4 separate regions of the Homo sapiens genome follow, and regions 1, 3 and 4 are each linked to region 2. The links come from fine-mapping of genetic effects on gene expression. A gene starts in region 2. Each other region holds a variant in brackets. All regions are shown on one strand. Distances are between the middles of the regions. Region 1 has its middle 16 kb from the start of TASOR. Region 2 holds the start of CCDC66 (coiled-coil domain containing 66). Region 3 has its middle 44 kb from the start of CCDC66. Region 4 overlaps CCDC66 (coiled-coil domain containing 66).

What was found. PIP is the estimated chance that this variant, and not a neighbour inherited with it, causes the effect.
Region 1: its variant is fine-mapped to the expression of CCDC66 in whole blood (TOPMed, PIP above 0.99).
Region 3: its variant is fine-mapped to the expression of CCDC66 in monocytes (BLUEPRINT, PIP 0.95). The same link has a PIP of 0.9 or more in subcutaneous fat.
Region 4: its variant is fine-mapped to the expression of CCDC66 in whole blood (INTERVAL, PIP 0.93).

What each region holds. Positions count from the first base shown.
Region 1 is chr3:56,694,951-56,703,162 of GRCh38, reverse strand. No RefSeq gene overlaps it. Among named protein-coding and RNA genes, the nearest start is that of TASOR, 16 kb to the right of the region's middle. The variant T/A (reference allele first, on the strand shown) is at 4,395.
Region 2 is chr3:56,552,680-56,560,891 of GRCh38, reverse strand. CCDC66 (coiled-coil domain containing 66) reads right to left here and starts at 3,717. Exons shown (of 18, transcript NM_001141947.3): 1 at 3,639-3,717; 2 at 1,982-2,046; 3 at 1,298-1,323. The coding sequence starts at 3,649. RefSeq lists enhancers at 3,302-3,461, 2,930-3,601, 3,602-4,274.
Region 3 is chr3:56,508,804-56,517,015 of GRCh38, reverse strand. No RefSeq gene overlaps it. Among named protein-coding and RNA genes, the nearest start is that of CCDC66, 44 kb to the left of the region's middle. The variant G/AAG (reference allele first, on the strand shown) is at 4,409.
Region 4 is chr3:56,594,273-56,602,484 of GRCh38, reverse strand. The region is part of intron 10 of CCDC66 (coiled-coil domain containing 66); the gene reads right to left. Among named protein-coding and RNA genes, the nearest start is that of CCDC66, 41 kb to the right of the region's middle. The variant TAAAAA/A (reference allele first, on the strand shown) is at 4,139.

The DNA.
Region 1 (8,212 bases), 140 kb before region 2:
TATAGATGCAGCCTCACTATGTTGCCCAGGCAGGACTCTTAACTCCTGGGCTTAGGTGATCCTCCCACCTCAGCCTCCCCAGTGCCTGGGACTACAGGCATGGGCCACCATACCTGCAGTGACAACATATTTTTTAAAAGAATCCCATTGTACCTTAAATCATGACTCTTTGTAAAAGAGTTGGAAAACCACCAGGCAGATGACCCCAGTAAGACATTGTGGCTCGTCTTTATTCCCTCTTGGCATTGCCCCAGGTCCTATCCATCTAAGAGCCTTCCGCAGTCTTTGAACTCTGGGAAGAATTCTGTCCTGCCTAAATATAAGTATGGTAATACTGTAATTCCACAAATACTATGAGATTGTAGTTGTGGAACTACAGAACTCTTCTGGGGGAATATTTTAAAAATATTATTAGGTAATACAGAAAAGCTGCTAGGGTTTTGAAAACTGCTTAGTGAAGTTTTGCTGCCCTCTGCTGGAATTAAGCTGTATGCTCTTGAATGTCTGGTTTTCAACAGAAGGATTATAAAGCATTTAGTATGCATTGTTAGAATTTCATGGAGGTGTCTCAGGCGTTCTGCAAGCGTCTGGCACAATTTTTTTTTTTTTGAGATGGAATATCACTTTGTTGCCCAGTGTGGAGTGCAGTGGCAAGATCTCAGCTCACTACAACCTCCGCCTCCCGGGTTCAAGGGATTACAGGCACGCACATGATGCCTGGCTATATTTTTGTATTTTCAGTGGAGACAAGGTTTCACCATGTTGGCCAGGCTGGTCTTGAACTCCTGACCTCAGGTGATCCGCCCGCCTCAGCCTCCCAAGTCCTGGGATTACAGGTGTGAGCCACCATGCCCAGCCCAAATTTTATATTCTAAACATATTTAAACTATTTTCACAATAAAAATAATATTGTGTATTTAAATGTTACATATCTTAGTTTGACATACCAGATATTGCCAGAATCTAGTCTTGGAATGGAAAGGGAAAACCTTCCTAAACTAACCATCCACTCTTCTTATCTGTTCTTACATGTTTGTGTTCCGTCACTCCATTTCAAGCCCTACGGCCTTCCGCTAAACCATTTCAATAAGGAAAACACTTATAATGTTTTATAGATGATGTGATTTTTAGCTTGAAAATTGTTAACTATTGTAAGGTCCTCTACATCTGAATTATGAATTGGAAGTGTTTATATCCTTTATTTGGCTTATTTTAAAACACCTGTAATTCTAGCACTTTGGGAGGCCAAGCTGGGTGAATTGCTTGAGCTCAGGAGTTCAAGATCAGCCTGGGCCACAGAGTGAAACCCCATCTCTACAGAAAATACAAAAATTAGCTGGGTGCAGTGGTACTCACCTGCATAGTTCCAGCTACCTGGGAGGCTGAGGTGGGAGGGTTGCTTAAGCCCAGGGGCCAGAGGTTTCAGTGAGCCTAGATCTTGCCACTACACTCCAGCCTGAGAGACAGAGTCTCAAAAACAAAACAAAACAACAAAACAAAACAAAACACCAAAAACAATTAAAACACCTTGGCATGGTGGCTCATGCCTGTAATCCCAGCACTTGGGAGGCCAAGGCGGGCGGATCACGAGGTCAGGAGATTGAGGCCATTCTGGTCAACATGGTGAAACCCCATCTCTACTAAAAATACAAAAAAATTAGCTGGGCATGGTGGCGCGTGCCTGTAATCCCAGCTACTTGGGAGGTTGAGGCAGGAGAATCGCTTGAACCTGGCAAGCGGAGGTTCAGTGAGCCAAGATCGAGCCACTGCACTTCAGCCTGGCAACAGAGTGAGACTCCATCTCAAAACAACAACAACAACAACAACAAAAACACGTAACAAAACACCTGGCATCATCATTTTATGGTTTATTATTTGGTCCTTTCAGAAAGTTATAAATTACTGACATGTTAAAAAAAGAATGTGGTGGGGAGTGGGGGAAAAACAACAGCATCCTTTAGTAACTGTGATTACTAGTACTTTAGTAAAACCCATCTCTACTTCTTTCCTGCTTCTTTGAAATTCTCTCACACTGTAGTGCAACCTCAGTTTGTATCTAGGCTGACAATGACCAAGGATGGAGAAGTTCTAAGCCATCCTTACCTAGATTTTTGCAACAATGTCCTAAGTAGTTTTGTTGACTCCAATCCACCTAAAATCCACCTTCTATAACGAGAACCAGAATGCTCACACCTGTAATCAAGCACTTTGGGTTGCCAAGGTGGGAGGACTGCTTGAGCCCAGGGGTTCGAAACCAGCCTGATAACACAGGTAGACTCCCGTCTCTGCAAAAAATAAGAAAATTAGCTGGGTGTGGTGGCACACACCTGTGGTCCCAGCTACTCGGGGAGCTGAGGTAGGAGGATAGCTTGGGCCCTGGAAGTTTCGGCTGCAGTGATCTGTGATTGTGCCACTGCACTCCAGCCTGGGTGACCGAGTGAGACCCTAAGAAAGAAAGGAAGAAAGAAGGAAGGAAGGAAGGAAGGAGAAGGAATGAAGGAAGGAAGGAGAAGGAAGGAAGGAGAAAGAAAGGACAGGAAGAGAAAGAAAAAAGGAAAGAGAGAAAGAAATGAAAAGTTAAAAACAACAAAGAAACCCAGAATGATCTGTCTAAAATGCACGACTGATTGGGTCAGCTTCTACCTAAAATCCTTAACTTCTTATATTTTGCATCAGGATTAAATCCAAATCCCTTAATGTGGCATATGTTCTGTGATTCAGCTAGAGCCTTCAGACCAGCCCGCCTCTCCACTTGCCGCCTCATCCTGTATACCACAACAGCCAACTGTGCTTCCCTGCTGCAGAAACCTTTTTGTTTCTCACATTGGTATCTTTGTTCTTTTTTTCTCTCACCGTTTCTCTACCTGGAATTCCACTCATGCCATTGCCCTTCCTCTTCATCTCTGACATTCACTGACTCAGCTAGTCTCTACAAGATAGTCTTCTTCTCTTTTGCTAGTGTATTTACAAGCAGGAACTGTGTCTTATGTTTTATTCCCTGGGTCAGATATAGTTCTTAGCAAACACAAATTGTTCAAGAACTAATTGCTAAGTAATTGCATGTGTTTAGTAAGTGGGTGCCAGTGATGTCAATGTAGTAAGCTCCAGATTATCAGTGTCCCAGCATGAGGGTATGAGCATTCTCCTGTCTTTTGAATGTCTTAGGTTATTGTAGACAGACTGTAGTTAAAGGTACTTGAGGCTTTGAGACAGAATTGTATGCTATTTTGTCTTTTTTTTTTTTTTAATTGAGACGGAGTCTCACTCTGTTGCCCAGGCTGGAGTGCAGTGGCGTGATCTCGGTTCACTGCAACCTCCGCCTCCCAGGTTCAACCAATTCTTCTGCCTCAGCCTCCTAGGTAGCTGGGATTACAGGCACACACCACCACTTCCGGCTAATTTTTGTATTTTTAGTAGAGACAGGGATTTCACCATGTTGGTCAGGCTGGTCTCGAACTCCTGACCTCGTGATGGCCGCCTGCCTCAGCCTCCCAAAATGCTGGGATTACAGGCATGAGCCTCTGCGCCCAGGCTTTTACATTTAAAAGAATGTAAAACTTGCATTTGACCCCACTTCAAACTCCTTCAGGTAAGAAATAGATGTCTTAGTCAGTTTGGGCTGCTGTAACAGAGTACCATATTGCTGGTGGCTTATAAACAACAAACACTTATTTCTCACAGTTCTAGAGGGTGGGAAGTTTGACATCAAGGCACTGGCAGATCCAGTGTCTGGTGAGGAACCACTCCCTCATTCGTGGACAGCCATCTTTCCACTGCGTCCTCACATGGCTAAAGGGGTAAAGGGGCTCTCTGAAGTCTGTTTTATAAAGACGCTAATCCCATGCATGAGGGCTCCACCCTCATGACCTAGTTACCTCCCAAAGGTCCTACTTCTTTATCTGACAATTATCAAGGATGGTGAAATCCTAAGAGTTTCAACATATGAATTTGGGTGGGACATAAAAATTTAGTCTGTAGCACTAGGGAAGTGGAATTTTGCTTATTATCAGGCTGGGCATGGTGGCTCACACCTGGAATCCCAGCACTTTGGGAGGCCAAGGTAGGCAGATCACTTGAACCCAGGAGTTCCAGACCAACCTGGGCAATATTGCACAATCCCATCTCTACAAAAAATACAAATTAGCCCGGGTGGTGGTGCATGCCTGTGGTCCCAGCTACTTGGGAGGCTGAGGTGGGAGGATCACCTGAGCCAGAGATGTCAAGGCTGCAGTGAGCTGTGATCTCACCACTGCACTCCAGCCTGGGTGGAAAAAAAAAAAAAAAAAAATATATATATATATATATATACACACACACACACACACACACACACACACACATACACACACACACATATATACACATATATATATACATATATAGTATCTTTATAC[T/A]TATTTAGTATAAGAGATTTGGAACGACTTTGACAAAATTAAATATCTTACGTTGCTTATTATATTTCTAGTAAACAGAAATTCAACAAAGGGCCATAGGACTTGTAATAACAGATTGATTAAGAGAGTGAAGAGTTCTTTAGCACTGAAAGAAAGGAGAGCATTGGCGGGTGCGGTGGCTCACACCTGTAATCCCAGCACTTTGGGAGGCTGAGGCAGGTGGATCACCTGATGTCAGGAGTTCGAGACCAGCCTGGCCAACATAGTGAAACCCCGTCTCTACTAAAACTACAAAAATCAGCAGGGTGTGGTGGCGCACACCTGTAGTCCCAGACTCGGGAGGCTGAGGCAGGAGAATCACTTGAACCCAAGAGGCAGAGGTTGCAGTGAGCCGAGATCATGCCATTGCACTCCAGCCTGGGCGACAAGAGTAAAACTCCATCTCAAAAAAAAAAAAAAAAAAGAAAGAGAAAGAAAGGAAGGAAGGAAGGAAGGAAGGAGAGCATCATCTGGTGAGTGTTAACTACTCCACATCTCTAACAGGAATGTGGATAAGCATCTTCTAAAGGAATTATGGATTTATACTATTTCAATACTATTTTTATCAAGGAAATGTATATGAATAGTATTTTATTTTTAATATATATTTTTTGTTGTTGCTAAGTAAGCAAAACTGATTTTTTGGACCATTATTATCATATATTCTGTCTCTAGAGCAACTCAGATTCTCAAGAGAATGGACTAATCACCAAATGGCACAAACTGCAAGTAGAATTCCTCTAGATAAGTAACTGAACACCACATTTTCTTCAATTAGATAAATGTCTGGTGTTATGTTTCTATAATTTATGTAAATTGCAACCATAGACCTACCAATTACCCTATTTAAACTTGGCTGGTTCCCCAAAGATTTCTTAGGAAAAAACTTATTATTAATTGCCTATCTTTTCAGAGCCACTGGGCCGGGGGTGGGGGAAGGGTAGGGTACTGAAACTTGAACTCGTATTTTTTGTAAAGCTCTATTTTTGAGAATCTCTTTTAACTGGAATGTTTTACATTAAATGAAAAAATAATTGGGAAAAAATATTTTTTTCACTTGGGAGTATTATGGGGAAGGACATTTGAAATGAGGCATTTAAAGCCAAACCATTATCTAACTTTTTGTTTCCAAGAGTTGAAATGGAACTTTTTGGGGAAAAGAATCTGGAATATTTAATGTTGTTAAGTCACTGGGCTTTAGGTTTAATGTTCTTTTTGAAGAGGGTTAATGTGAATTAACTCTAATACGAATCATTAAAATATAAAAACCAGGAAAAGAGCCAGGCACGGTAACTCACGCCTGGAATCCCAGCACTTTGGGAGGCCGAGGCGGGTGGATCACCTGAGGTTGGGAGTTCGAGACCAGCCTGACCAACATGGAGAAACCCTGTCTCTACTAAAAATACAAAATTAGCCAGGCGTGGTAGCGCATGCCTGTAATCCTAGCTACTCTGGGGGCTGAGGCAGGAGAATCACTTGAACCTGGGAAGTGGAGGTTGCAGTGAGCTGAGATGGCGCCATTGCACTCCAGCCTGGGCAACAAGAGTGAAACTCCATCTCAAAAAAAAAAAAAAAAAAAAAAAAATCAGGAAAAGACACAGCTAGCACTTTTGCTACTCACATATTCACATCATGGCTGGATATAGACATGCATAAGGTGGAGGGTCCAATGCCAATTGCTGGTGCTTTAATTGACCCAGGCCATATCCCATTGTAATCTTTGCGTTATCTTGCTATTATTGTATTGGTCAAATTTAGAATTTTTTCTTTTCTTTTTTTGGTGGGGGCAGGTGGAGAGAAAACAGGAAATGATTTACTCAGTTCTTTCTACACAATTAACATAAATTTAAGCATAGTTGCCTGTCAAATAACTTCCTGTATTATATACCTGAGAAAGAATTTCCCCCAAGCTATTAGTGGAACACTATATCAACCTCCTTTTTTAAAAAACAGTTTAAGGCTGGGTGTGGGGGTTCACGCCTGTAAGTAATTCCAGCACTTTGGGTGGCCGAGGTGGGAGGATCACTTGAGGCTAGGAGTTCAAGTTTGCAGTGAGCTGTGATCATGCCAGCCTGGGCTACAGAGCAAGACTCCGTCTCAAAAAAATTAAATAAATAAATAAAAATAAAAAATAATAAAAAACCGGTTTTAGATCCTTTGGTAGTTCATAAATTTCAGCACATTACCCGTCAGACATGAAAAAAAAAAGTTTCATTGATATAATTCATGCACCATACAATTCACTGACTTAAAGCATACAATTCAATCGTCTTTAAGATAATCACAGAATTATGCAACTACATTTTCATCACCTTAAAAAGAACCTGTACCCTTTAGCTATCATCCCCAAATTCCCTCATTAACCTAGCCCTAGGAAACCACTGATCTAATTTCTGTCTGTATTGATTTCCCTGTTCTGGACATTTCCTATAAACAGAATCATACCATATGCAGCATTTTGTGACTGGCTTCTTTTTCTTAGCACAGTATTTTCCAGGTTCATCCATGTTGCAGGATGTATCAGTTCTTCACTCCTTTTTATGGACAAATAATATTCCATTGTATAAATGTAAGATATCTTGTTCATCTCTTCATATGTTGATGTACTTTTGCTAATTTCTCTTAAAATCAGCATTTTGTAGCACCAACCATATAGCAAAAGGTCATGTCAAATATCTTTTTATTACCAGGCTTTTATGGACTGGGGAGAAAATGTCCAAAATTAAGTCTGAATACCTTTCTGGTACTATGAAGCACCAAATAATAAAACAATAACCTGAATCATGTGACTTAAAAGGGAAGCAGCTCTCAATTTAGTTATTGGTCAGCCAAAGAAATTGGATGACTTTGATTACTTCTGTCTGCCCAGAAATCATATATAAATCTGTAGGAGCTACGAGAAATTAGTGAAGAAACTTGTGTTTTTAAGGGAGTTGGTGGGAATATTCCTGTTCACTCAGAAAAATGAAAGGACAAAACAAGGGAGAGAAATGATACATAGAGGAATGATTAAAATGCCCAGTGGGTAACTTTGTAATTTTTCTTGATTTCCATTGAGAGTCTTGATTAACAAAGTAGCCATCCCAGAGGCCTATAAGCAAGTAGAACTGGGGTAGTTGCAAGGGTTTGCAATTAGATTTAGGAGGCAAATCTGAGTCCTGTTCCCTCACTTACTGGTGATGTTTCCTTGAGCAAGGCAGTTAAGTTACCATTTCCTCATCTGACAAATGTAACAATGTTTCTCTGACAATGCTGGGAAGATTAAATGAGGCAATGGGTATAGAAGCATCAGAAAACAAACAGGGTCAGGATGGATCTGCTTGTTTACAGCTGTAACCTCAGAAGCCCATCTTAGGGCCTGGTAGCAGGTTGAGAGAATAAGTGAAGCATTTGGTAAATTGCAAGGTGTTATTCACATGTTCTCTCTGTATTGTTACTTCTTTTCCTCCAACTTATTCACTGTCTTCCAAATTGAGTGCTGAGATGGGTTATCTTGAAAATAGGAAGTTCCAGACAACTTTCTTTTGGCCTCTTTTATCATAAAAACATAAAATCGAAGACACTTTTAATTTGAAAATTTTTTTTTTCACACATTCCACCTACGTTTGCACTTTTGTAGTGTACCACTTCCTCTTGAGCATTTTTTTTCTCTTTGTGTAACTTGGATTGTTGGCACCAGCCTCCTTCTTACTTACAGAGCTCCACCAACCACAACGTGAAGTTAGTATAAATTTAGATCTTTGTTCAGATGATAATGGCAGTGGTGTAAATGACTCTAT
Region 2 (8,212 bases):
TATCCACAGACAAGCAAAGACTTTAAGACACTGCAAAGATAAAAGGGGGCTGTAGTAAGTTATGGAAGAGAAGAGAAATTCCTACTGATATTAATCTAAAAATTAAAAAAGAAATAGGTAGCAAGAAGAGTAGAAGTATCAAAACAGTTGGCTTTTTTTGCTTTTGTTTTTTGAGAAGGAATTTCGCTCTGTCCCCCAGGCTGGAGTGCAGTGGTGCGATCTCGGCTCACTACAACCTCCATCTCCAGGGTTCAAGTGATTCTTCTGCCTCAGCCTCCTAAGTAGCTGGGACTAGCGCCACCACATCTAATTTTTGTATTTTTCATAAAGATGGGGTTTCACCATGTTGGCCAGGCTGGCCTTGAACTCCTGACCTCAGGTGATCCACCCACCTTGGCCTCCCAAAGTGCTGGGATTACAGGCATGAGCCACCATGCCCAACCTCAAAAAAATTTTTTAAATGGTAATTCCAGCCTATGCAACATAGTGAGATCCCATCTCTACTAAAAATAAAAAAAATTAGCTGGGCATGGTGGCTCATGCACACGGTCCCAGCTACTCAGGAGGCTGGAGGAGGAAGATCTGCAGCCATGATTATGCCACTACACTCCAACCTGGGTGACAAGAGTGAGACTCTGCCTCAAAAATTAAAATAAACAAAGTGATAATGTATTTTGTAGAAAAAAGCACAATAGATTTCTGATAAGGGAAAATAATTTAAAAGGAAAATTACCCTTAAGCTCAAGTGCAACCTTTTAAAGGAAAATGCTAAATGCATGCTACAATTTGTGAATTAAATTTCCCCTTTGGTGTGGGCAAATGGAATTTGAGTATGAAAAGAAAAAACATTTCTGTTTAAAGTCTGAATATCTATTTTTAAAGATCTCTGGAGTGCATTGTCCAGTACAATCCATTATCCATTAAATTCCATTAAAAATTAAAGGAAATTAGAAATTCAGTTGCTCAGTCATACTAGTTACATTTTAAGGGTTCAATAACTATACATGACTAGTGGCTTCCATATTCAATAATACTGATTTTATTAATGAACACTTCCATTAACACAGATGCTTTACTGAATAGCACTTATCTAGAGAAAGAGGTTCTATTGGGCTAAACCTAAAATGATTCAATTTCTGTGAAAGGACCAATCTGAAAGCAAGAAAATAATAACTCCTCACTATAATTCCAAACCCCTTAGAACACTTGACATTTCCCAGGAATTATTTTCTAACCACTATAAATAAAACTGCATTTTACATTTGAAAACAGGTCAGGTCAAAGTTATACGGCTTACCTTCACAGAAATTTTTGATTTATGTTCTACAAAAGAAAAAAGAAATTACTAAACTATCCACCAAAAGCATACTAAGGTGGTAATGCAAGAAAACTGTAATTAATATTGTTATAAGATTTTAAGCTAGCAACATTATCCTCGAAAGCATAAACTTTAGATCTTGACTGAGTATTTTTTTCTAATCCAGTTCAAGGATTTACTTCTATTTTATTTTTGTTTTTTATCTTTCCAAGGTAAAACTATAAACAGAAAAAAAAATGCGAAGGAGAAGGTACCAAAGTACACTGAGTTTAAAAACGAATACTAAAAGTGACTTTAGCATTTTACGGTGGTCTTACTATAAACTTTTCTCAAATGATACATTCTTTACATGCAAAGAACATAATTACATAAATTTTACTTGTATTATTCATCAGGCAATGAGGATATTTGCTATATGGATATAATGAACACGCAATATACTGGAACATTAAATGTTATGAGTCTGAATACTGACAGTAGTAAGCAGTGTTGTAATCTGATTTTATTTGGCTAGAAGGAAATCTGCAGAAGTTTGAGGAAACAGCTTTTTCTAAAATATCATTTAAATATCACTCTATTACAAGCAAAAAGTCTGTTGAACTAATATAAATTTTATGTATGAATTTAAAAGTTAACATTTCAGATTTCTGTAACACAACATACCATATGGAGACAATATTAGCTTGGTTTTTCCATCCAGTAATTCAGTTTCAAGCTTTAAACCATCTCTGTAATAAAAAAAGAAAGTTGTCTCTCATTTTTAACAAACCGCAACATTTTAAATAACCAGAAATGTTCATTTGAACCTGACAATAAATCCATTATTTTGAATTTATGCAGGAATCTTGTACACATCGAACCAGTGTTTTAATTAAAAACGTTTGCAATCCAAGATAAAACCCACAACTACAGGGGGAAAATTCTTGAAACTCTTCAATACTACAAGCATTGTTATCATTAACCTGAAATCTCATTTTGTTATTGGTAAACTATAAATTAAGTTATCATACCACCATTTTTTAATAATGCTGTTACCAAAACTCCTCACATAAGTTAAAGGAACAAGATATATTTAACCGCCATTCATTAGTTTCATAATGAACTCATGACTAAAACATTCTATGGAGTGCTGGAGCATCGATATGACTACTAACAATGCCATCAAGGTTAGTAACTGCTTGAGCAAAGAGTACCACTTTCAATATTTCAAATAATACATAGTGATATTTAGTATGGTGCTTTATACGTGCATATCAGAAGCAAAGGCATAAAGTAACAGTAGCCACTGCCAACAAAACTTGAACGTCTGTTAAGGTCCTAAAACTCCACTGAGAACAAAAATGGCAGCCCATACATACAGTCCATAATTCAGAGAGAGAAAATTAAATCCAGCAAGCCAGTCAAGGGAGAGAGAGGCTGGGAAAGGTCTGATTAGGAATGCGAAATTTGCGGTGTTGCTCAGGTAGGGGAAATCAAATTACCTCACCTTAACTATTAAAGGTAAAACACTGGAAAGAATAGGTTTTACGGCTTTCCTTATTGTAGGGTTATGAACAGTTCGTGTTTATGTTGGTGAAACGTCACCAAGAAAGAAAAGAGCTTCAATGGTAAAGTACCTTCAATGACGCACTGCACTGTAATCTCCTTAAGGGACACACTATCTTATTTATTTCCATATCCCCAGATTCTAAAACATAATAACATTTGCTGAACGATGTGTAGTTAGGTCTGAGTTTGGTGGCTTCTCATCTTCTCAAAATATCAAACTTGCGAGTGATGAAGACCATGCACCAGCCCTTTTTATTTATTCACCCCTACTTAAGGAGCGCCTACTAGGTGTTAGGCACTGGTACTACATCGATTTCTTGAGAAGCCTGGTTCCCCGCCTCGTGGGCCTAAAACGAATTTGGGCGTTTCAACATTCTGCAAGACTCCAAAAACAAGGTGGCGAAGAACCCGGGGCATGGGCCAGGAGTCCTCCCCAGGAGCCGCCACGCTTCCTCTAACTGTCTCGTCATTTCTCTCCTTTCCTCCTCACCTCTCTTCCCTCCTCATCCTGAGGTAAATAAGGGACCGAAAGGGGATCACTGGCAGTTTTAATGCTAGTCATTAAGTGAAAACGTAAGGTCTGTGGAGTCGCTAAGGGCCGACCCATCTGCCTCGATCTTCTACCCGAGAACTGGGCTCTGCCCCTCTCGGCGGCGCAGGTTGGGAACGTTCTCCAGTAAAGACTCCAAGGGACAACCCAGACACACATGCCTCCCTCTCCGCTGACGACCACCTTGCTTACCCCAGCTTACCCCAGCTTACCCCTGCTTACCCCAAGTTCATGGCCTGACCTCGCACTCTCTCCACAGAACGCTCAAGCCCCTTGTGTACGTCGGTTGCCGCCGCCGCTCAGCAAGCGCTACGCCAATTGGATATAGGGGTGCCGGCGAGCTGAGCAAGTGGACCAATCAGGGTGGGGCATGCTGGCGGGTGCGCTGAGCTGGGCCGGGGCTCCCGCGGGGACGGTTGCGTATGCCGTTTGTTCCCCTTTTGTGCCCCGTTTGTGCCGTTTGTTCCCCTACGCACAGCGGAATTTGGCCTGACCCGGCTTATGAGTCTAAAGCTTCGGTGGCGGAGACCTGCGCTTCTCGCAATTGTAGCCTTCCAAAGCGCGTACACAGACACACACACACACACACACACACACACACACACACACACACACACACACACACACACACACCTTTTTGGGGTCACCATTTGCAAGTAAGTTACAGACATTGTAACACTTAACCCTTTAACATTGCAGACATTGTAACACTTAACCCTTTAACATTGCAGCATGTATCTCCTAAGAATAGATGTTCTGCTACATAACCGCAGTACAATTATTATACCTAAGATCATTAATTTCATAATAATTCTCTTCCCGATTTAATTTCCCCCACTTGTCCTAAGAATATCTTATAGGCATTTTATTTAGAAAGCAAGAGCCAATCGCGCCACTGCATTCCAGCAGCTTGGGCGACAGAGTGAGACTCCGTCTCAAAAAAAAAAAAAAAAAATGCAAGAGCCGATCAAGGATCACACATTACATTTGGTTGTTAAGTATCTTTGCACACACTCTTTCCAGACAAAAACAATGAAAGGTATTAATTATTAAATGCCTGACAAACCTTTACTTTTTTATTTTTTATTGTTGTAATATGTGTGTTAAAATTTGCTATTTTTAGCCATTTTCAAGTGACAATTCCATGATACAATGTTGTGGAATACGCCAGTATATTTTTCCAAAAGCTTTTTAGTACCCCCAAATAAAAATTCTGTACCCATTAAGCAACAACTTCCCATTTTCCTCTCCCCTCAATCCTAAGAAACCTCTAATCTTATTTCTGTCTCTAGGAATTTGCCTATTATAGATACTTCATGTCATAAAAGTGGAATCATACAATATTTGTCCTTTTGTGTCTTCTCTCAAGTAACATAATGTATTCAAGGTGCATCCATGTTGTAGGATGTATCAGAGCTTCATATCTGTTTATGATTGAATAGTATTCCATTCTATGTATATATATACCACAATTCGTTTACTCATTCATCCATTAATAGACATTTGGGTTGTTTCCATCTTTTAGTTATTGTGAATAATGCTGTAGTGAACACTGATGTACAAGTATCTGTTTGAATCCCTATTTTCAATTTTCTTGGTATACACCTAAGAGTGGAATTACTGGGTCACATGGTAATTCTATGGTTAACTTTTCGAGAAACTGCCAAACTGTTTTCATAACAGTTGCAGCATCTTACATTTCTGCCAGCAATGTATATGAGGTTCTAATTTCTTCACCCCAACACTTGCTTTTTCTTTTTCTTTTCTTTCTTTTTTTTTTTTTTTTAGAGACAGGGTTTTGCTCTGTCACCCAGGCCGCCTACATTGGTACGAACATAACACTGTAACCTCGAACTCCTGGTCTTAAATGATCCTCCTGTCTCAGCCTCCCAAGTAGCTAGGGCTACAGGCATGCACCACTACGCCTGGTTAATTTTTAAAAAAATTTTTGTAGAGACAGAGTCTGTTTACGTTGCCCAGGCTGGTCTCAAACTCCTGGCCTCAAGTAGTCCTCCCACCTCAGACTCCCAAAGTGCTGGGATTATAGGCGTGAGCCTGTAGCCAGAATGATTTCTAAAATGTGAATCTGCTTAATTCACTCTGCTTCTTAAAATCTCTCAATATAGGAGAACGTCCTTAACTTGATAAGCAATATCTACAAAAAATCTCCTAGAGACCGGGTGTGGTGGCTTATGCCTGTAATTGCAGCACTTTGGAAGGCCAAGGCAGGAGGATTGCTTGAGTGTAGGAGTTCGAGACCAGCCTGGGCAACATGGTGAGACTCTATCTCTATTTTTTAAAAAAATCCTGTAGAGCCCAATATCACACTTAACAGTGAAAAAGTGCAACTTTTCCACTGAGATTGGGAACAAGAGCAAGGCAAGAATGTCTCTTCTTATCACTGCTTTTCAACATCACACTGGAAGTCTGAGCTAATCCTAAGACTTAGCCTTAGTCCTAGCTAAGACAAGAAAAAGAAATAAGTATACAGACTGGGAAGAAAGAAAGAAAACTTTGTTTGCAGATGACATGATTGTCTATGTAGAAAATCTGAAAGAAGCCACAAAAAATCCTCCTGGAATTAATAAGTGAGTATAGTGGCATTGCAGAATGCAAGGTTAATACACAAAAGCCAATTGCTTTCCTGTATGTCAGCAATGAACAAATAGAAGCTGAAAATAAAAACACGATACTGCCCAGGCGCGGTGGCTCACGCCTATAATCCCAGCACTTTGGGAGGCTGAGGCGGGCGGATCACGAGGTCAGGAGATCGAGACTGTCCTGGCTAACACGGTGAAACCCCGTCTCTACTAAAAATACAAAAAATTAGCTGCGTGTGGTTGCAGACGCCTGTAGTCCCAGCTACTCAGGAGGCTGAGGCGGGAGAATGGCCTGAACCCAGGAGGTGGAGCTTGCAGTGAGCCGAGATCGCACCACTGCACTCCAGCCTGGGCAACAGAGAGAGACTCCGTCACAAAAACAAACAAACAAACAAACAATACTATTCACATTAGCATCCCATCAAATCAAATGCTTAGGTATAGATCTAACAATATATGTATAAAATCTATATGAGGAAAATTACAAAACTCTGATGAAAGAAATCAAAGAACTAAATAAATGGAGAGATATTCTGTGTTTATAGATTGGAAGACTCAATATTGTCAAGGTGTCAGTTCTTCCCAACTTGATCTATAGATTCAACACTATGCCAATCAAAATCCCAGCAAGTTATTTTGTGGATATCAACAAACCGAATCTAAAGTTTATATGGAGAGACAAAAGACCCAGAACAGCGAAAACAATATTGAAGATGAACAAAGTCAGAAGACTGACACTACCCGACATCAAGACTTACTATAAAGCTACAGTAATTAAAACAGTGTAGTATTAGTGAAAGAATAAACAAATAGATAAATAATAAAACAGAGTGCCTAGAAATAGACCCACATAAATAGTCAACCGGTCTTTGACAAAGGAGTAAAGCCAAAACAAAGGAGAAAAGATTATCTTTCAACAAATGGTGCTGGAACAATTGGATATCCACATGCAAAAATATTAGTCTGACCCAAACCTTGCATTCTTCACAAAAATGAACTCAATATAGAACAGAGTCCTAAATGTAAAATGCAGAACTGTATAACTCCTAGAAGAAAACATAGGAGAAAATCTAGATGACTTTGGGTTTGATGATAACTTTTTTTTAACAAGCCCACAGCTAACATCATATGATGATAACTGTTTAGATGCAACACCAAAGGCATGATCCATCAAAGAAAGAATTGATAAGCTGGACTTCATTAAAATCAAAATTTTCCATTTTGTAAAAGACACCGATAAGAGAAAGAAAAGATAAGCCACATTCTAAGAGAGAATATTTACCAAAGACATATCAGATAAAGGACTGTTATTCAAAATATAAGAAAAGATCTTTAAACTCAACAATAAGAACATAAACAACCCAATTTTAAAAATGAGCCAAAGACCTTGATGAATGCCTCACCTAAAAAGATGCTGAATACAGATGGCAAATAACCATATGCAAGATGCTATATGTCATATGTCATCAGGAAATGCAAAATAAGACAACAATGAAATACTATTACACACCTATTAGAATGGTCAAACTCTAGATCACTGATAACACAAAGTGCTGGTGAGGATGCAATCTCATTCATTGTTGGTGAGAATGCAAAATGGTGTAGCCACTTGGAAGACATCTTGGTGATTTTCTTTTAGTTTTTTGTTTTCGTTGTTGAGACAGGGTCTCACTGTGTTGTCCAGGCTGGAGTGCAGTAGCGTGATTTTGGCCCACTGCAGTCTTGAACTGCTGGGCTCAAGAAATCCTCCCACCTCAGCCTCCTGAGTAGCTAGGACTACAGGCGTGTGCCACCATGCCTAGCTAATTTTTGTATTTTTTTGTGGAGATGGGCTTTTGCCATGTTGCCAAAGCTGATCTTGAACTCCTGAGCTCAAGGGATCCACCTGCCTCGGCCTTCCAAAGTGCTGGAATTATAGGCATGTGCCACTGTACCTGGCATTTGTGGTTTCTTACAGAACTAAACATATTCCTACCATGTGCGTGACCCAGCAATTGCATTATTTGGTATTTATCCAAAGGCGTTGAAAATGTATGTCCACAGGAAAACCTACACATGGATGTTTATAGCAGCTTTATTCATAATTGTCAAAACTTGAAAACAACCAGGATGTCCTTCAGTAGGTGAATGCATAAACTGTGGCACATCCTGACAATGAAATATTATTCAGAACTAAGAAAAAATGAGCTTGATACC
Region 3 (8,212 bases), 44 kb after region 2:
GAGGGTTTAGAGAAATGAGGAGCCCACGGTTTTTTTGCAGGGGGGCACAATCTTACTGTATATCAACACCAGAAATGTATATACCCTTTGATCCAAAAATTGTATTTCTAGGAATCTCCCCTACAAAAATTCTTATATACGAACACAAAGTTGTATGTTCCAGGATTGTTTGAAATAGCAAAACATTGGAATCAACCTAAATATATAGCAATCTTAGTAGTAAACAAATTATGGTACATTTACACTATGAAATATTCTGAAGAAGTAAAAAGAAAGAGGTAGATCTTTATAAATTGACACGGAAGAGCAACCCTCTAAAATGTGTTAATGTGAAAATCATGTTGCCTGTGTGTTGTGGTCCCTCATAAGATAGATGGATAGGTAGATAGCTATCTAGATATCTATCTAGATATCTCATAAATCTCTTTTTCTCTCTTCTTCCCTCCCTTCTTCCCTTTCTCCCCTTTCCTCCCTTCTTTCCTTTCTACGAATGCGTAGGAAAATAATTAGGGGCATATATATGTATTTACACACACACATATATAAGATATTATTCCATGTGACTATATTTATGTGTTCCATTTTCATATTGCTATAAAGTATACCTGACTGAGTAATTTACAAAGGAAAGAGGTTTAATTGACTCACAGTTCCACATGGTTGGGGAGGCCTCAAGAAACTTATAATCATGGCAGAAGGAGAAGGGGAAACAAGGCATGTCTTACATGGTGGCAGGAGAGAGAGTGTGCAGGGGAAACTGCCACTTTCAAATCATCAGATCTGATGAGAACTCCCTCACTATCATGAGAACAGCATGGGGAAAACCACCCCCATGATCCAGTCACCTCCCACCAGGTCCCTCCCTCGACATGTTGGGATTACAATTCTAGATGAAATTTAGGGTGGGGACACAGAGACGAATCATATCAATATATATACACAATCACTAATGTTAGTGTGTGTGTGTATATACACACCACATATGTATACACACTGTTAGTGAATGTGTGTGTATACATATAAACACACACACTAATGTTATACTAATATTAGTATATATCTAATGGTAATATACTAGTAATATACTAATGTTAGTATATATATGTTAGTGTGTATATATAACATATATAGTATATATGTATTATGTATTATATATACATATATGTTCATAGTATATATGTATATATGTACACTATAATACATGTATTATACTATGTATACTATATATACTTCATATAGTATAATATATGTATTATACTGTATATGTGTACTGTATATACATATATAGTATAATATATGTAATATATACTATATATAGTATAATACATGTATTATACTATACATGTATATATATAGTACATGTATTATACTATGTATTATACTATGTATAATATACTATAATACATGTATTATATTATGTATAATATACTATAATACATGTATTATACTATGTATAATATACTATAATACATGTATTATACTATGTATAATATACTATAATACATGTATTATACTACGTGTATACGTGTATTATGTACATAATACATGTATTATGCTACGTGCATACGTGTATTATGTACATAATACATGTATTATGCTACGTGCATACGTGTATTATGTACATAATACATTTATTATGCTACGTGCATACGTGTATTATGTACATAATACATGTATTATGCTACGTGCATACGTGTATTATGTACATAATACATGTATTATGCTACGTGCATACGTGTATTATGTACATAATACATGTATTATGCTACGTGCATACGTGTATTATGTACATAATACATGTATTATGCTACGTGCATACGTGTATTATGTACATAATACATGTATTATGCTACGTGCATACGTGTATTATGTACATAATACATGTATTATGCTACGTGCATACGTGTATTATGTACATAATACATGTAATATGCTATGTGTATACTTGTATTATATACTATAATACATGTAATATGCTACGTGTATACGTGTATTATATACTACAATACACGTATATACTACGTGTATACGTGTATTATATACTACAATACACGTATATACTACGTGTATACGTGTATTATATACTACAATACACGTATATACTACGTGTATACGTGTATTATATACTATAATACACGTATATGCTATGTGTATGCGTGTATTATATACTACAATACACGTATATGCTATGTGTATACATGTATGATATACTATAAAATACATGTATTATACTATGTGTATACAGGTATTATATACTATAATACATGTATTATACTATGTGTATACATGTATTATATACTATAAAATACATGTGTCATACTATGTGTATACATGTATTATATACTATAAAATACATGTGTTATACTATGTGTATACATGTATTATATACTATAATACATGTGTTATACTATGTGTATACATGTATTATATACTATAATACATGTGTTATACTATGTGTATACATGTATTATATACTATAATACATGTGTTATACTATGTGTATACATGTATTATATACTATAATACATGTGTTATACTATGTGTATACATGTATTATATACTATAATACATGTGTTATACTATGTGTATACATGTATTATATACTATAATACATGTGTTATACTATGTGTATACATGTATTATATACTATAATACATGTGTTATACTATGTATAACACATGTATTATATACTATAATACATGTGTTATACTATGTATAATACATGTATTATATGCTATAATACATGTGTTATACTATGTATAATACATGTATTATATACTATAATACACGTTTATACTATGTGTATACATGTATTATATACTACAATACACGTATATACTATGTGTATACATGTATTATATACTACAATACACGTATATACTATGTGTATACATGTATTATATACTACAATACACGTATATACTATGTGTATACATGTATTATATACTACAATACACGTATGTACTATGTGTATACATGTATTATATACTACAATACACGTATATACTATGTGTATACATGTATTATATACTACAATACACGTATTATACTATGTGTATACATGTATTATATACTGTAATACACGTATTATACTATGTATAATACATGTATTATATACTATAATACATGTGTTATACTATGTGTATACATGTATTATATACTATAATACATGTTTATACTATGTATATACATGTATTATATACTATAATACATGTTTATACTATGTATATACATGTATTATATACTATAATACATGTATTATACTATGTTTATAGTATAATACATATAATATATAATATACATTAATGTTTATAGTATAATACATATAATATATAATATACATTAATGTATATAGTATATATATCACATACACACAATATATAGTATATATACTATATATGTATACAATAGTATGTATAGTATATATACATATACTATATACATATACATTATACTATATATGCATATAGTATAATATATGTATTATGCTATATATGCATATATAGTATAATATATGTATTATACTATATATACATATATATGTAGTATAATGTGTATATATACACAATACACACACACACACACACACACACACACACACACACACACACACTAACATGTAGCAGTAGTAACCTAAGGAGAGAGAAAAAGAAATAGAATGAAAGGGGAATTTCTATTTTTTATTTTTATTTTTGTATTGTTGAATGGTTTTTACAATGAACACATATTCACATATAACTTCTGTAATTTAACAAATGATATTTTAAAATACCAAGAAAAATTCTAGTATAAGTTATTAACTGCCCCTCTAAGACTTTCTTTTTCTTTCTTCCCCCACCCTGTTTTTTGTTAATCATGAGAATTTTCAAGTATCTATAAAGTATAGAAAATAATATTACAGACAACCACGTACCCATCATCCAAATTTAACAGATGTTAACATTTTGCCAAATTTGCTTCAGATTCTGTTCTAACAAAAAGACAGAAAATGTTACTGATAATAGTTAAAGGTTTGTGCCCTACACTCTCGAGGTGGTGATTTTCTTGGAGTTGTGTATTATTTACAATTTTTTAGATCAGAAAATAAGGTGCCCTCAGATGATTTAAAAGAAAAAAGTCTTGACCAGGCATGGTGACTCACGCATGTAATCTCAGCACTTTGGGAGGCCGAGGTGGGCCTGTGGTCAGGAGTTTGAGACCAGCCTGACCAACGCAGAGAAACCCCATCTCTACTAAAAATACAAAATTAGCCGGACAAGCTGGCGCATGGCTGTAATCCCGGCTACTTGGGAGGCTGAGGCAGGAGAATCGCTTGAACCTGGGAGGAAGAGGTTGCGGTGAGCTGAGATCACACCATTGCACCCCAGCCTGGGCTCGAAACTCCATCACAAAAAAAAAAAAAAAAAAA[G/AAG]AAAAAGTCTTAAGTGCAGTTTTCCACATTTTGTAGAAAACTTCCTGTAAGAGGGATTAGAAATTGCATCTTTCTTTTTCCTTTGAAATACTTGGAGGGTTTGCCATTCTCCCCTTCTGGTCCCTCATCTCACTCCCATCTCCCTGAATGAGCATCTCCCCGAATGAACATCTCCCCTGGGCTCTTGACTTCTTCTCTCTGTTCCATCTTGGCAGCCACTGCCAGACTATCTTCCTAAAGCCAGGTTTCTCAACTTTGTTACTACTGTCATTTTGTGTGGATAATTCTTTGTTGTGGGGGCTGTTCTGTGCATTGTACAGTGTTTAGCAGCATCCCTGGCCTCTGACCACTAGATGCTTTCCCCTGTTGTGACAACCATAAGTGTCTCCAGCTATTGCCACATGTGCCCCTGGGGAGCAAAATTGCCTGTGGTTAAGAATTACTGCACTAAATTGTGATTTTTGATATCACTTCCATGCTCCTAAAAGTCCCATGGTTCTCTACTGCCCATCACACCATGTTCAAACTCTCCTCACACCTGCCACTGGCCCCATGTGATTTCAAGTCACCTCTGCTCCCACCTCCTCCTGTTTTTGTGCTTCATCCCATCAATCAGTCACTACCTCCCTGCTCTCCTAGTCCTCTTGTATTAAGCTAAATCTCACAGTTGGGCTTTTGTGCATGCTTTCCTGCATCTTATGGTGTCATATCTTTTAGTTTCTGCCTGTCCAACTGTTGCTTGCCTTTCAAGGTCAGGCGTAAGTCCCATTGCTTCATATAATGTTTCCTGGTTTATTTGGCCCTTGTTTGTGTCCTCTTGATTTGGAAGCAGTAAGCTCTGGTGGGTCTGTGAATGGACTTCAGGATCAGATGAATGTGGGTATAGCCCTGACACTCCTACACATGAACTGTGTTACATGGGCAACTAGTTTAGTCTCTCTATGCTTTGTCTCCTCAATAGCATAATGGGGACAGCCATCCCTACCTTACAGGCTGGTTGACAGGATTAAATTACATTTTTTAGGCCCCACTTAGCTCCCGAGTATATATACTACTTCACATGTGTTTGTCTTAACTGTGCAAATGGAATGAAGTTTATTTGTTTGAGACAGGGACTCTGCCACCTAGGCTGGAGTGCAGTCATGCAATCATAGCTCACTGCAGCCTCAACTCCTGGGTTCAAGCAATCCTCCCACTTCGGCCTGCCAAAGAGCTGTGATTACAGGCACGAGCCGCTGCGCCTAGCCAGAATGAAGTTCTTTAAAGAAGTATGTTAAACTTCTCCTCTGTCGTCTCTTGTGACAGATGCTTTGTAGATATCCAATAGGTATCACTGACTGCATAGGGAAAATGCAGCAGTACATACCTACCAATTACTATACTGCTTCTGTACGTACTCACAACCTTGGGGTCCTTGATCTTTCATTCCTTCCAAATGAGTTTCAGAAGGATTAGGTTTATCACCTTGATTTTTTTTTATTTTTTAATGATCATTGGTGTATAATAGGTGTATACATTTATGGGGCACATGTAATGTTTTGATACAGGCATACAATGTGTAACAATAAAATCAGGGTAATTGGGGTATCCATCTACTTAAGTATTTATCATTTCTTTGTGTTAGGAACATTCCAATTTCAGTCTTTTAGTTGTTTTGAAATATACAATAAGTTATTATTGACCATAGTCACCTGTTATACTACCAGATTCTAGAATTATTTATTCTATCTAACTATATTTTTGTACCCATTAACCTTCCCCAGTTTATCCTCACTACCCTTCCCAGCATCTGGTAACCATCATTCTACTATTTCCGTGAGATCCATTGTTTTAATTTTAACAATATATATTACCAGGGGCTAAGTGGGCTCCCACATATGAGAATATGCACAATTTGTCTTTCTGTGCATGGCTTGTTTCACTTAACGTAACGTCCTCCAGTTCCATCCATGCTGTTGTAAATGACAGGATCTTCTTTTTTAATGGTTGAATAATATTCCATTGTGTATATGTGCCACATTTACTTTATCCATTCATCCGCTGATGGACATTTAGATTCCAAATCTTGGCTATTGTGAATAGTGCTGCCATAAATATGGAAGTGCAGATATTTCTTCGATATACTGATTTTCTTTCTTTTGGATATATCCCTAGCAGTGGGATTGCTGGATCGTATGGTAGCTCTATTTTTAGTTTTTTGAGGAACTTCCATACTGTTCTCCACAGTAGCTGTACTAATTTACATTCCCACCGACAGTGTACGAGGGTTCCCTTTCCTCCACATCCCTGCCAGCATTTGTTATTGCCTGTCTTTTGAATAAAAGCCATTTTAACTGGGATGAGATGATATCTCATTGCAGATTTGATTTGCATTTCTCTGATGGTTAATGATGTTAAACATTTTTTCATACACTTCTTGTCCATTTCTATGTCTTCTTTTGAGAAATGTCTATTCAGATCTTTTGCCTTTTTTTTTTTTTTTTTTTTTTTTGAGACCGAGTCTCCCTCTCTTGCCCAGGCTGGAGTGCAGTGGTGCGATCTCAGCTCATTGCAGGCTCCGCCTCCCGGGTTCACGCCATTCTCCTGCCTCAGCCTCCGGAGTAGCTGGGACTACAGGCGCCCGCCACCACGCCCAGCTAATTTTTTGTATTTTTAGTAGAGACGGGGTTTCACCGTGTTATCCAGGATGGTCTCGATCTCCTCACCTTGTGATCTGCCCGCCTCGGCCTCCCAAAGTGTTGGGATTACAGGCATGAGCCACCATGTCCGGCCTGCCCTTTTAATATTTATTTATTTATTTGTTTATTTATTTTTGAGACAGAGTCTCGCTCTGTCCCCCAGGCTGCAGTGCAGTGGCGCCATCTCGGCTCACTGCAACCTCCACTCGCGGGTTCACGCCATTCTTCTGCCTCAGCCTCCCGAGTAGTTGGGACTACAGGCGCCCGCCACCACGCCCGGCTAATTTTATTTTGTATTTTTATTAGAGACGGGGTTTCTCTATGTTAGCCAGGATGGTCTCGATCTCCTGACCTCGCAATCTGCGCGCCTCAGCCTCCCAAAGTGCTGGGATTACAGGCGTGAGCCACCACGCCCCGCCCTACTTATTATTTATTTATTTATTTAATTTGAGACAGAGTCTGACACTGTTGCCTGGGTTGGAGTGCAATGGCGCGATCTTGGCTCACTACAACCTCCGCCTTCTGGGTTCAAGCAATTCTCCTGCCTCAGCCTCCCAAGTAGCTGAGATACAGGTGCACACCACTATACCTTGCTAATTTTTTGTATTTTTAGTAGAAACAGGGTTTCACTATGTTGGCCAGACTGGTCTCGAACTCCTGACCTTGTGATCCGCCTGCCATGGCCTCCCAAAATACTGGGATTACAGGCGTGAGCCACCACGCCTGGCCTATTTATTTTTGAGAAGGAGTCTTGCTTTGTTGCCCAGGCTGGAGTGCAGTGATATGACCATGGATCACTGCAACCTCAACCTCCCGGACTCAAGAGATCCTCCCACCTCAGCCTCCCTAGTACCTGGGACTATAGGCGCACGCCATTACACATGGCTAATGTTTGTATTTTTGTAGAGACAGGCTTTTGCCATGTTGCCCAGGCTAGTCTTGAACGTCTGGGCTCAAGGAATCCACCCACCTTGGCCTCCCTAAGTGCTGAGATTATAGGCTTGAGCCATTGCACCCAGGCCCTTTTGCCCTTTTTAAAATATAATTATTTGATTTTTTTCTATAGAGTTGTTTGAGCTCTTTGTATATTCTGGTTATCAATCCCTTGTGAGATGAGTAGTTTGCA
Region 4 (8,212 bases), 42 kb before region 2:
CCAACATCATCCTGATACCAAAACCTGGCAGAGACACAACAACAACAAAAAAAGAGAATTTCAGGCCAATATCCCTGATGAACATTGATGCAAAAATCCTCAACAAAATACTGTCAAATCAAATCCAGCAGCACATCAAAAAGCTTATCCAGCACGATCAAGTTGGCTTCATATCTGGGATGCAAGGCTGGTTCATCATATGGAAATCAGTAAACGTAATCTATTCACATAAACAGAACCAATGACAAAAACCACATGATTATCTCAATAGTTGCACAAAAAGCCTTCAACAAAATTCAACATCCCTTCATGCTAAAAACTCTCAATAAACTAGGTATTGATGGAACGTATCTAAAAATAATAAGAGCTACTTATGACAAACCCACAGCCAATATCATACTGAATGGGCAAAAACTGGAAGCATTCCCTTGAAAAACGGCAAAAGGCAAGGATGCCCTCTCTCTCCACTCCTATTCAACATAGTATTGGAAGTTCTGGCCAAGGCAATCAGGCATGAGAAAGAAATAAAGGGTATTCAAATAGGAAAAGAGGAAGTTAAGTTGTCTCTGTTTGCAGATGACATGATTGTATATTTAGAAAACCCCATTGTCTCAGCCCCAAATCTCCTTAAGCTGATAAGCAACTTCAGCAAAGTCTCAGGATACAAAATCAATGTGCAAAAATCACAAGCATTCTTATACACCAATAACAGACAAACAGCCAAATCATGAGTGAACTCCCATTCACAACTGCTACTAAGAGAATAAAATACCTAGGAATACAACTTACAAGGGACGTGAAGGACCTCTTTAAGGAGAACTACAAACCACTGCTCAAGGAAATAAAAGAGGACACAAACAAATGGAAAAACACTCCATACTCATGGATAGGAAGAATTAATATTGTGAAAATGACCATATTGCCCAAAGTAATGTACAGATTCAATGCTATCCCCATCAAGCTACCACTCACTTTCTTCACAGAATTGGAAAAAACTACTTTAAATTTCCTATGGAATCAAAAAACAGCCCAAACAGCCAACACAATCCTAACCAAAAAGAACAAAGCTGGAGGCATCATGCTGTCTCACTTCAAACTATACTACAAGGTTACAATAACCAAAGCAGCATGGTACTGGTACCAAAACAGATATATAGATGAATAGAACAGAAGAGAGGCCTCAGAAATAACACCACACACCCACAACCATCTGATCTTTGACAAACCTGACACAAACAAGCAATGGGGAAAGGATTCCTTACTTCATAAATGGTGTTGGGAAAACTGGCTAGCCATATGCAGAAAACTGAAACTGGACTCCTTCCTTACACCTTATACAAAAATTAACTCAAGATGGAATAAAGACTTAAACGTAAGACCTAAAACCATAAAAACCCTAGAAGTAAACCTAGGCAGTATCATTCAGGACACAGGCATGGACAAAATGACTAAAACACCAAAAGCAATGGCAACAAAAGCTGAAATTGACAAATGGGATCTAATTAAACTAAAGAACTTCTGCACAGCAAAAGAAACTATCATCAGAGTGAACAGGCAACCCACAGAATGGCAGACAATTTCTGCAATCTACCCATCTGACAAAGGGCTAATATTCAAAATCTACAAAGAACCTAAACAAATTTACAAGAAAAAAACAACCCCATCAAAAAGTAGGCAAAGGACTATGAGCAGACACTTCTCAAAAGAAGACATTTATGCAGCCAACAAACATATGGAGAAAAGCTCATCATCACTGGTCATTAGAGAAATGCAAATCAAAACCACAATGAGATACCATCTCATGCCAGTTAGAATGGCGATCATTAAAAAGTCAGGAAACAACAGATGCTGGAGAGGATGTGGTGAAATAGGAACGCTTTTACACTGTTGGTGGGAGCGTAAATTAGTTCAACCATTGTGGAAGACAGTGTGGCAATTCCTCAAGGATCCAGAACCAGAACTACCATTCGACCCAGCAATCCCATTACTAGGTATATACCGAAGGGATTATAAATCATTCTACTATAAAGATACATGCAGCCGGGCGCGGTGGCTCATGCCTGTAATCCCAGCACTTTTGGAGGCCAAGGTAGCCCGATCATGGGGTCAGGAGATTGAGACCATCCTGGCCAACATGGTGAAATGCTCTCTGTACTAAAAATACAAAAATTAGCCAGGCACGGTGGCGGGCACCTATAATCCCAGCTACTTGGGAGGGTGGGGCAGGAGAATCACTTGAACCCGGGAGGCAGAGGTCGCAGTGAGCTGAGATTGCACCACTGCACTCCAGCCTGGCGACAGAGCAAGACTCTGTCTCAAAAAAAAAAAAAAAAAAGATAAGTGCACATGTATGTTTATTGCAGCACTACAGCAAAGACTTGGAACCAACCCAAATGCCCATCAATGATAGACTCGATAAAGAAAATGTGGCACATATACACCATGGAATACTATGCAGCCATAAAAAAGGATGAGTGCATGTCCTTTGCAGGGACATGGATGAAGCTGGAAACCATAATTCTCAGCAAACTAACACAAGAACAGAAAACCAAACACTGCACGTTCTCACTCATAAGTGGGAGTTGAACCATGAGAACACATGGACACAGAACATCTCATCCAACAGTTAAGAGAATACACATTCTTTTCATTAGCATAAGGATTATTCTCCAGGACAGATCATATGTTAGGACACAAAACAAATCTTAACAAACTTTAAAAAACTGACTTCATATCAAGTATCTTCTCAAACCACAATGGAACAAAACCAGTAATCAATAATGAGAGGAACACTGGCAACTGTACCAATAAATAGAAATTAAACCACATGCTTCTGAACAAGCATCCAGTCAAGGAAAAAATTTAAAAAAATTCTTGAAAAAAATGAAAATTTAAACCCAACATACCAAAACCTATGGGATACAGCAAAAGCAGTGCTAAGAGGGAAATTTTAGCAATAAGTGCCTATATCAAAAAAGTGGAAACATTTCAAAAAGCAATCTAATGATGTACCTAAAAGGAACTAGAAAAGAACAAACCCCAAATTAGTGGAAAGAAATAACAAACACTAGAGCAGAATTAAACAAAATAGAGACACACAATACAAAGGATCAAAGAAACAAAGATTTTTTAAAAGATAAACAAAACCAATAAGCTACTTGATAGACTAACCAAGAACCGAAGAGAGAAGACCCAAATAAAATCAGGAATAAAAAAGGAGAAATTACAACTGATACCACAGAAATACAAGAGATCATCAGAGGCTATTATGAACAACTACACACAGACAAACTAGAAAATCTAGAAGAAATGGATAAATTCCTGGAGACACACAAGCTATCAAGATTGAATCAGGAAGAAATAGAAAACCTGAACAGACCAGTAATGAGTAATAAGACTGAATTGGTAATAAAAAAGTCTCCCAACAAAGGAAAGTCCAGGACCAGACAACTTCACTAATGAATTCTACCAAACTATCAAAGAACTAACCAATTCTTCCCAAACTATTCCAAAAAAATCAAAGAGGAGGGAATTTTCCCTAACTCATTCTGTGAGGCCAGCATTACCCTGATACCAAAGCCAGAGAAGGACACAACAAAAAAGAACAAAGAAAATTACAGGCCACTATTTTTGATGAACATAGATGCAAAAATTCTCAACAAAATACTAGCAAACTCAATCCAACAGCACATGAGAAAACTAATACCCAATAATTAAGTGGGATTTATCCCAGGGATGCAGGCAGAATTCAACATACACAAATCAATAAATGTGATACATCACATCAACAGAATGAAAGACAAAAACCATATGATCATCTCAGTAGACAAGAAAAAACATTTCACAAAATTCAACATCACTAAATAATAAAAACTCTCAACAAACTAGGCACAGAAGGTATATACCTTAAAATAATAAAGACTATATATGACAAACCCACAGCTAACATCATACTTAATGGGGAAAAGCTGAAAGCCTTTCCCCTAAGAGCTAAAACAAAACAAGGATGCCCACTTTCACCATTCTTATTCAACATAGCAACAGAAGTCCTAGCCAGAGCAACCAGGCAAGATAAATAAAAGGCACCTAAATTAGAAAATAAATAAAATAAATAAAATAGAAAATAAATAAAATAAAA[TAAAAA/A]GTCCCCTATGCAAAAATTACCCAGGCATGGTGGCACACACCTGTAATTCCAGCTACTTGGGTGGCTGAGGCATGGGAATTGCTTGAACCCAGAAGGTGGAGGTTGTAGTGATCCAACATTGTGCCACTGAAGTCCAGCCTAGGTGACAGAGCTGTCTCAAAACAAACAAACAAACAAACAAACAAACAAAACAAAACAAAACAAACTAAAATCAAAACGTCCCCTTTGCTGATGTTATCATCTTATATCTTAAAAACCCTAGACTCCACTGGCACAGTGGCTCATGCCTGAAATCCCAGCACTTTGGGAGGCCAAGGCGGGTGGATCACCTGAGGTCAGGAGTTCGAGACCAGCCTGGCCAACACTGCGAAACCCCATCTCTACTAAAAAAATACAAAAATTACAAGGTGCGGTGGCACATGCCTGTAGTCCCAGCTACTTGGAAGGCTGAGGCAGGAGAATCGCTTGAACCTGTGAGGCAGAGGTTGCAGTGGGATGAGATCGCGCCACTGCACTCCAGCCTAGGCAACAGAGCGAGGCTCTGTCTCAAAAAAAAAAAAAAACCCCAAAACAAAACCTAGACTCCACAAAAACCTCACATCTGATCAATAAATTCAGTAAAGTTGCAGAATACAAAATCAACATACAAAAATCAGTAGCATTTCTATACACTAGCTGAGAAATAAAGAAGGCAATCCCACCTACAATAGCTACAAAACAATAAAATATCTAGGAATAAATTTAACCAAGGGGGTTACACATTTCTACATAAAAAACTACAAAACAGATGAAATAAACGAAAGAGGATACAAACAAATGGCAAGACATCCCATGTTCATGGATCAGAAGAATTATGCCTAAGGCAATCTACAAATTCAATGCTATCTCTATCAAAATACCACCTTCATTTTTCACAGAAGTAGAAAAAATTCAAAACTTTCTATGAAACCAAAAAAGAGCCGTAATAACCAAATCAAGGTGGATCAAAAGAACAAAGCTGAAGGCATCACACTACCTGACTTCAAAATACATTACAAGACTATAGGAACCACAACAGCATGGTATTGGTATAAAAACAGACATATAGATCAATGGAACAGAATAGGGAATCCAGAAATAAATCCATGTATTTACAGCCAACTGATTTTCAACAAAAGTGTCAAGAACATAGTTGGGGAAAGCACACACTCTTCAATAAATAATGCTTGGAAAATTGGATATCTATATGCAGAGGAATGAAATTGGAGCCCCATCTCTCACCATATTCAAAAAACAATTCAAGGGCTGGTGTGGTAGCTCATGCCTGTAATCCTAGCACTTTGGGAGGGCAAGGCAGGTGGATCATTTAAGGTCAGGAGTTCAAGACCAGCCTGGCCAACATGGTGAAACCCCATCTGTACTAAAAAAAAAAAAAAAAAATTAGCCAGGTGTGGTGGCATGCACCCGTAATCCCAGCTACTCAGGAGGCTGAGCAGGGAGAATTGCTTGAACCTGGGAGGTGGAGGCGGCAGTGAGCTGATCACGTCACTGCATTCCAGGGTGACAGTCTGAGACTCCACTTCAAAAAAAAAAAAAAAAAAAATTCAAGATGGATTAAATAGTTAAATGTATGACCCAAAAATGTAAACCTACTAGAAGAAAACATACGGAAAACACTTCAAGACACTGGTATAGAGTTTGTGGTCGAGACCTCAAAAACACAGGGACCAAAAACATACGAATAGGGCTACATTGAACTAAAAATCTTCTGCACGGGAAAGGAAACAATAACCAGAGTGAAAGAGACAGTCTGTCCCCCAGTTTGAATATTCAGTAGTTTGAATATTCAATAGCTTGCATATTCAGTAGTTTGAATATCTGCAAACTATTCATCCAACAAAGGGCTACTATCCAGAATGCCTAAGAAACTCAAACTAAACACACACACACACCAAAAATCCAAATAATTCCATTAAAAAGTGGGCAAAGAACATTAATAAACATTTTTCTAAAGAAGACATATAAATGGCAAACAGGTACATGAAAAAATGCTCAACATTACTAATCACAGAAATGCAAATCAAACCCATAATGAGATATCATATCGCCTCAGTTAGAATGGCTATTACTAAAAAGACAAAAATGCTGGGCCCGGTGGCTCATGCCTGTAATCCCAGCACTCTGGGAGGCTGAGGTTGGAGGACTGTTTGAGGCAAGGAGCTCGAAACCAGTCTGGTCAACATAGTGAGACTGTGTCTCTATAAAAGAAAAAAATTAACATTAGCCTGACATGGTGGCGCATGCTTGTAATATCAGCTACTGGGGAGGCTCGGGCAGCAGGATTGCTTGAGCCCAGGGGTATGAGGCTACAGTGAGCCATGATTATGCCACTGCATACCAGACTGCGCAGCAGAGCAAGACCCTGTCTCAAAAACAAGCAAACAAACAAACATACCAAAAGACAAAAACTAACAGATACTGCCAAGGAAGCGGAGAAAAGGGAATCCTTATACATTGTTAGTGGGAATGTAAATAAATACAGTCACTATGGAAAACAGTATGGAGACGTCTCAAAAAACTAAAAATGGAACTACCATATGATCCAGCATTCCCAGTACTGGATATTTATCGAAAGAACATGAAATCTGTATATCAAAAGGAAACCTGCACTCTTGTGCTAACTGTAGCACTATTTACAATCTGAGTGTCCATTGATGAACAAATAGATAAACAAAATGTGGTATATACACAATGGGATACTATTTGGCCATAAAGAAAGAATAGAATCTTGTCATTTACAGCAACACAGATGGGACTGGACGTCATTATGTTAAGTGAAATAAGCCAGGTATATAAAGATAAACATCACATGTTCCCACTCATATGTGGGAGCTAAAAAAGTAGGTCTCAACGAGCTAAAGAATGGAATGATAGGTATCAAAGGCTGGGAAGGGTGTGTGTGAGGGTGGTAGTGATCAAGAGAGGTAGGTTAATGGGTACAAACATATGGTTAGATGAAAGGAATAAGTTCTAATGTTTGATAGCAATAGTAAGGTGACTATGGTCAGCAACAATGTATTATATATTTCAAATTGGCTAGTAAACTTGAAATGTTCCCAACACAGAAATGATAAATACTCAAGGTGATAGATACCAGAATACTCTGGCTGAATCATTACGCATTCTACATATATAACAAAATATCATATGTATCCTATAAATATATAAAACATTATATATCAATTTTTAAAATCCATGAAGCATTAGTTTGGTGACTGTAGAAATAAGTTTTTATCAGCATACTGAAAGTATTATTTATATAAGTGAAGTGGAAATGTCAAATTTCCAATGCATTTCTCCCATCTCCCATTTGTACTGTCAAGTTCTACATGCCTTTTCTTCAACCCTAGGAGGGCTACTGGAGGAAATGGTATTAAAAAAAACTGAAGAAATAATCTCAGTGCTTAGCATAGTGCCTGTTAAGTAGCAGATGCTCTGCAAATGTCTGCTCACTGACTAAGCATAACATTAATGATGCCAAATTCATATATCAAAGGATTTGAAGAATTATGCAGATATTAAAGTCCCTTTAGCATTAGGCTAAAATCAGGACAGGAAGTTTTAATTTTAATTTTAGCCTCCTTTCTTATATTATGCATTAGATTTCTTTTTTTTTTTTGAGATGGAGTCTCACTCTGTCGCCCAGGCTGGAGTGCAGTAGCACAATCTCAGCTCACTGCAAGCTCTGCCTCCCAGGTTCATGCCATTCTCCCACCTCAGCCTCCCGAGTAGCTGGGGACTACAGGCGCCTGCCACCACGCCCAGCTAATTTTTTGTATTTTTAGTAGAGACGGGGTTTCACCATTCACAGGATGGTCTTGATCTCCTGACCTCGTGATCTGCCCACTCAGCCTCCCAAAGTGCTGGGATTACAGGCGTGAGCCACCGTGCCCGGCCATTATGCATTAGATTTCTTAGTCATAATTCTAGTTCAATCCCTATTCAAAGAATGAATTCTCATCTTAAACAGAACTCAGGAGAAATAAATTGATGAAAAAAAAAAAAACCAGTACTAACCTAAGACAACAC